Homo sapiens: one gene and its partner. The protein of the gene in region 2 purifies or fractionates together with the protein of the main gene of each other region. This does not show direct contact. Each region holds a gene or a part of one and is shown on either strand. Other genes may lie near its edges.

Evidence for each region.
Region 1: the proteins of EVA1C (region 2) and TMEM192 purify together in Homo sapiens (affinity purification with mass spectrometry; 4 studies listed by BioGRID and IntAct, with this or other methods). This does not show direct contact.

Annotation. Positions count from the first base shown.
Region 1 is NC_000004.12:165,095,861-165,099,360, forward strand, and holds part of TMEM192 (transmembrane protein 192), read right to left. Parts: intron 1-3,500.
Region 2 is NC_000021.9:32,450,706-32,454,205, reverse strand, and holds part of EVA1C (protein eva-1 homolog C isoform 1 precursor), read right to left. Parts: intron 2,993-3,500; exon of another isoform or gene 2,843-2,992; intron 895-2,842; coding exon 698-894; intron 691-697; exon of another isoform or gene 1-690. UniProt on the Homo sapiens protein: Binds heparin.

The DNA.
Region 1 (3,500 bases), on a different chromosome or scaffold from region 2:
ACCTCCCAGGTTCAAGCAATTCTCCTGCCTCAGCCTCCTGAGTAGCTGGGATTATAGGCGCCCACCACCACCCCAGTCATGCCCAGCTAATTTTTTTTTTTTTTTTTTGTATTTTTAGTACAGACAGGGTTTCACCATGTTGGCCAGGCCTGTCTTGGACTCCTGACATCAGGTGATCTGCCTGCCTCGACCTCCCAAAGTGCTGGTGTTACAGGCGTGAGCCACTGCACCTGGCCCAAATACATTTTGAACTCAAATATTATTAGGCCGGGCGCAGTGGCTCATGCCTGTAATGCCAGCACTATGGGAGGCCAAGGGGAGCGGATCACCTGAGGTTAGGAGTTCGAGACCAGCCTGGCCAACATGGTGAAGCCTCGTCTCTACTAAAAATATAAAAATTAGCTGTGTGTGGTGGTGCGTGCCTGTAGTCTAGCCTGGAGAGGCTGAGGCAGGAGAATCAGTTGAACCTGGGAGGCAGAGGTTGCAGTTAGCTGAGTTCATACCACTGCACTCCAGCCTGGACAACAGAGCAAGACTCTCAAAAAAAAAATTATATATATATATATGTATTTGGATCTAAGGAAGGAGAACAGATTAATCAGGTAAATATTTTCACTTGGTAGGAAAGCAAAGCCCTTTCTCCCATCTCCACCCAAAGGTAAATAATTTTTTTTCTTCTCTGGAAAATAACAAAATATATCAGGCTGAAGTTAATATTATCAGTACTGTTATCTGTAAGTCCTACATCCTACATCTCCATAGATTTATCTTTTTTTTTTTTTGCAAATAAGAAAAAATATTTTAAAAAATAGAAATAAGGTAAGTACCTGCTCCATTCCGTTTGATTTTCTGGGTTTTCACATGAGCCACATAAACGTGATATCACCTGTGATTCTAAAGGTCCAAGTGTTCAGAAATAGATTATGATTACGGCTCACATGTTTAACAAAAATTTGAAAGGCAGATTTTGGAAAGGTAAAGATCAAATAATCTCCTTGTGAGCTTCCAAAATACTATTTCCAGACCATCACTTGAGAAACTGAGTATTATTTTGGTCACAGATCATATAAGATCTTTTGTAGTTTAAAATTAAGTTTTTTCTTTTTTTTTAATCTTTGTGTTACCCTGACATCTTCTGGCCAAAAGAGAGAGCTGCACATCAACAGTTGAACATTCTCAAGCTCATTCTCACAAGAGGCAGGGAGCAATAAATGCTTCCCCTTCAAGAGCAGTCAGGATCACCCAACTCTATAAACTGCTTCACGCTGATATAGCATAGCCCTTCAGCTTCCACTGAGAATTTCACTGAGTAGATGAACTTGCAGCATGCCCTTTAAGAAAATGCACTAACAGGCCGGGCGCGGTGGCTCATGCCTGTAATCCCAGCACTTTGGGAGGCCGAGGCCGGCGGATCACAAGGTCAGGAGATCGAGACCATCCTGGCTAACACGGTGAAACCCCGTCTCTACTAAAAATACAAAAAATTAGCCAGGCGTGGTGGCGGGCGAATGCAGTCCCAGCTACTCGGGAGGCTGAGGCAGGAGAATGGCCTGAACCCGGGAGGCGGAGCTTGCAGTGAGCCGAGATAGCGCCACTGCACTCCAGCCTGGGTGACAGAGCGAGACTCCATCTCAAAAAAAAAAAAAAAAAGAAAAAAGAAAATGCACTAACAGAACAGAAGAAAAATAAAAGTTAAATTCTGTGGAGCCTTTTTTTTTTTTTTTTGGAGAAAAAAATCTCTAATTTGATCCAATTTTTTTTTCTTTTTTTATAGAGGGGGGTGTCACTCTTTCACCTAGGCTGGAGTGTGGTGCATAATCATAGCTCACTGCAGCCTCAAACTCCTGGGCTCAAGTGGATCCTCCCACCTCAGCCTCCCAAGTAGCTAGGACTACAGGCACAGGCTACCACACATGACTAATTTATTTATTTTATTTTATTTTACTTATTTATTTATTTATTTTGAAATAGAGATTTATTTATTTATTTAGAGATCGAGTCTCACTCTGTCACCCAGGTTGGAGTGGCACGATCTCAGCTTACTGCAATCTTGATCTCCCGGGTTCAAGCGATTCTCAGCCTCCTGAGTAGCTGGAATTACAGCCACCTGCCATCACACCCAGCTAATTTTTGTATTTTTAGTAGAGATGGGGTTTCATCATGTTGACCAGGCTGGTCTCAAACTCCTGACCTCAAGTGATCCTCCCGCCTCAGCCTACCAAAGTGCTGAGATGCTAGCATTACAGGCATGAGCCACCGTGCCCGGCCTTAATTTTTTTTTTAGACAGAGTTTCGCTCTTGTCACCCAGGCTGCAGTGCAATGGTATGATTGCAGCTCACTGCAACCTCTGCCTCCCGGATTCAAGCAATTCTCCTGCCTCAGCCTCCCGAGTAGCTGGGATTACAGTTGCCCGCCACCACGTTCAGCTAATTTTTGTATTTTTAGTAGAGACAGGGTTTCACCATGTTGGCCAGGCTGGTCTCGAACTCCTGACCTCAGGGAATCTACCCGCCTCGGCCTCCCAAAGTGCTGGGATTATAGGCGTGAGCCACCACGCCCAGGAATTTCTTTTTTTTTTTAAAACTTAACTTGGTGCTCATTTGTTACAGCACTAAATTTCTCATTTTTGGTAGAGATGGGGGAACTCACTATGTTGCCCAGGCTGGTCTCGAACTCCTGGCCTCAAGCAATCCTCCTACCTTGGCCTCCCAAAGCTCTGTGATTATAGGCATGAGCCACCATGCCCAGCCTGGATTCAAAAAAAATTTTTTTTTCTTTTTCCTTCTTTTTCTTTTTCTCGCTGCCTCCTCCAAGTAGGAAGACTACATATGGATTCAAGTTTTTTTTTCTTTTGAGGCAGTGTTCCGCTCTTGTTGCCCAGGCTGGAGTGCAGCGGCATGACTTCGGCTCACTGTAACCTCTGCCTCCCAGGTTCAAGCGATTCTCCTGCCTCAGCCTCCCAAGTAGCTGGGACTACAGGCGCGTGCCACCACACCCGGCTAATTTTCGTTTGTATTTTTAGTAGAGATGAGGTTTCACCATGTTGGCCAGGCTGGTCTCGAACTCCTGACGTCAGGTGATCCTTCCGCTTCGGCCTCCCAAAGTGCTGGGATTACAGGCATGAGCCACCGAGCCTGGCCTGGATTCAAAAATTTTTAAGATTTATTCTGGACTCAAATTGAAAAACAGGATCTTTTTAAAAGGTAGAAACTAAGTTATTTACTACAACTTTTTTTCTTTCTTTTTTTTTTTTTTTTTTTTGAGATGGGGTCTCACTCTGTCACCCAGGCTGGAGTCTGGAGTGCAGTGGCATGATCTCGGCTCAAGCAATTCTCCCACCTCAGCTTCCAGAGTAGCTGGGACCACAGGGGCACACCACCACACTTGGCTAATTTTTGTGTTTTTAGTAGAGAGGGGTTTCTCCATGTTGCCCAGGCTGGTCTCAAACTCCTGACCTCAAGGGATCTGCCCACCTCAGCCTCCCAAAGTGCTGGGATTA
Region 2 (3,500 bases):
CCAGGCTAGAGTGCAGTGGCATGATCTCAGCTTACTGCAACCTCCGCCTCCTGGGTTCAAGCGATTCTTCTGCCTCAGCCTCCCAAGTAGCTGGGACTACAGGTGCGTGCCACCATGCCCGGCTAATTTTTGTATTATTAGTAGAGATGGGGTTTCACCATATTGGCCAGGCTGGTCTTGAACTCCTGACCTCATGATCCACCCACCTCGGCCTCCCAAAGTGCTGGGATTACAGGCATGAGCCACCGCGCCCAGCCCTTTGAGTACATTTTCTAAAAAGTTGGTCATGACTTCAGATGTCTGCCTCAAAGAGATACTTGTGGTTTCCATTAAAGAACCTACCTTCCCTTTCTACAGGAGTATTTATGGGAGATGTGGGCCTGGAGGTTGGAATCCATCCTGGTTGTACTTTGCTATACTAAAGTAAGGAGTAAACCTACAAATAAATTCATATTGAAGTGTACAAAGGGGGCTCTACAATAGGTAGGAATTCTATTTAGTTTTGTTGGGCAACAAATCCTTTGAGAAGCAAATAATAGCTCACCTACAAAACTGGTGATCTGTATAAATTGGGATTTTTCATGGATCAGTTTTGCTTGGATTGAACTATATAATCACAAATATATTTATACCCAGAGAGAGAGAAAGAGTGTGTGTTGAAACTGTATCATCTTAACATGTCTACAAAAGGCAATACCTGGAAGGTGGTGGCTGCCACACAGGTTAAGCTGTCTTCCCTCTGGGAGGCAGGCTTCTGGGAACTACACATTTGGTAATCTTGCCCATAAAATGCCGATTGGACACTTATCGTAGAATGCCGAGGGCACTGTAGATTCAAATAGTCCCCATCACAGGCATAGGTGGTGTGGTTTTGCAGGAGTTTGGTTAGGTAACCTGGAAAATATTCAGTCGAGTTACTAGAGGCCCAGGAACCCACCACTCCTCCATGGGTTTGGGGACAGGAGGACGTTGGTTCCCCTGGGGAAGGGCTGTTCAATCAACAACATGTGGGATGGGGCCTCCCTAGCAGCTCTGGTGCAGAGGTCACCAAACCAGGCCCAGAGGTGGGGCACAGGAGCCAATGTCAGCTTTCATGTTGACATGGAAGGGGGGCAGGGGAGTGCTGGGTAGAGAAGGGTGGGGTCCCTGGCGAGGGCTCCACCCATGGGCTTGTGCCCATGGACCTTAGTGAGAACAGGCACTCCTGTTTTCATGTCCAAATGTTGCATTTTCCAAGACTACTCTGGCCTGCCATGACCCCCATCCTGTGCCCATAAAAAACCCAAGACCCTAGTGGGCACACACACAAGTGGCTGGACGTCGAGAGGAGCAGAGAAGCAGAAGAGCACACTGACAGACACCAGCAGATGCTGGCGGGCTTTCGACAGCGGGGCGATGTGGAAATCAGTCGGGGGCGGTCGGAGGAGAGTCTGGCTGCTGGGCAGCCCAACTCTAGGGGAAGACCACCTTCCCACTCCATCCCCCTTCTGGCTCCCCATCCGAGAGCCACCTCCTCCACTCAATAAAACCTTGCACTCCTTCTCCAAGTCCATGCGAAATCTGATTTTCCGAGTACACTAGGGCAAGAACCTGGGATACAGAAAGCCATCTGTCTTTGTGATAAGGCAGAGGGTCTAATTGAGCTGATTAACACAAGCCGCCTGCAGATGGCAAAACTGAAGGAGACCACTGTAACACATGCCCACTGGGGCTTCGGGAGCTGTAAACACCCAATTCTACAAGCTGCTGTGGGGTCGGAGCCCAAAAACGCTCCCCACGACCTGTCCATCTGCATGCCCCCTCTAGGGGTTTGAGCAGCAGGGTACTGAGAAGCGAGCCATGCCCCTGTCACGTGCCCTGCAAGGGGGGATAAGGGAACTCCTCCTGTTTCAATGTCTGGGTCAGAAACCTCGGTCTGGGATGGCCCACTGAATGGTTTGGAGGGCTCTTTCCCCTTCAGGAAGCACTAAGATATTGGCCAGGAGCCAAGGAGTCCTGAAGCACCTTTATAAACCAGGAAAAAAATCGGGGTGAGTGTCCCCTGGATGTGTGGATGCCCATCCTGAGGGAGGCTTTCATTTGCTCATCTCCCACTAGTGAGGCCATGCCTTATTGGAATGAGAGGATGCAATTTCATTTCAAGAAATCACTCTTGGCTCTGTCTTGCTGCTGGAGAGGAAAGACAGGCAGGGTGCCCTGCGTAGAGAAGGGGCCTGCTCCAAGGGCGTGGTGCAGGGAGGCGATGGTGGGGCTCTGCTGTGGGTTGAATGATGTCCCCTCAAATTCACGTTCATCAGGAACCCCAGAATGTGACATTTGGAAATAGGGTGGTTGCAGATGTAATGAATTAAGTTGGTGACATACTGGAGTAAGGTGGGCCCTTAACACCATATAACCGGTGTCCTTATAAGAAGAAAAGAAGAGACACAGAGGGAAGACAGCCATCTGCAGCTGGAATGATGCACCTGAAGCCAAGGAATGCCGAGCGTTGCCGGCCACCACCCAAAGCTGGAAAAGGCCAGGAAGGATTCTTCCCTAGAACCTTCAAAGGCAGCACAGCCCTGCCAACACCTGGATTCAGACTGTGGCCTCCAGAACTGTGAGAGGATGAATTTCTGTTGTTTTCAGCCACCCAAGCTTAGGAAAGGGGTTGCAGCAGACTGTGAATAAGACAGGCAGCCAGTCAGACTCCATGGAATTCCCAGGCAGCTTGCAGGAGCCACACTCAGCCCTGGGCTCTGAGAAGCTCTGAGGCCCAGCAGGCGCAGGGGCCTAAACTATTTCTCGGCAAGGAGGAAGGAAGGTTCATCCAGAATGTAGATCCCCTTCCTCCTTCTCACACCTCACGAGGTCACAGCGAGGCGGCTGGGAGGAGAGCCAGGGACTTTTCACTGAGGTGTGTGGGAGACAGCTTGGCAGCCCTTGGTCTCTGAAGGGAGGAGGTGGCGTGAAGGAGGGCAGCTTAGGAACTTCCCGATTCCTGCTCGATGACCTGTGTGTAAAGTATTCCTGTTTAGGTTTCAAAATCCTCTCAGAAACATAATTCTCGGAAAATCCAGGCGCCCAATCCAGCTCCCTGGCCTTCCCTGAAATCTGAAGTCAAAGGGGCTGAGCCAGCCTGCCCTGGGGTCCTCACGCCCACCAGCCCAGAGTGCTCTCTAGAGGAAGGCTACAGACATTTCCTGGCACGTTCATCCAGACGTTAGCTGTCTTGCTGAAACTCCTTTTTTCACCCTTGAAAACCACTGGAAGAATGGCCAAGAACCCAGCTATCCTGAGTAAGTTCACTTAGAGAAGCAAAATCTAACATGAGTGGCAAAACGGACATTGGCACCAGGAGTGTGGGTCAGAGTCCTGCCCCTTGGAACTACATCATTGCTTGCACAGTGTACCCCCCAGGCACCAAGAGACCAGGCCAAGACCCCTCAGTGGCCCTGGGCCTCTGGTCAGTGTCTTCCCGCCTGGCACACAGGCAGGCCCTCATAAAACAATGAGTACTG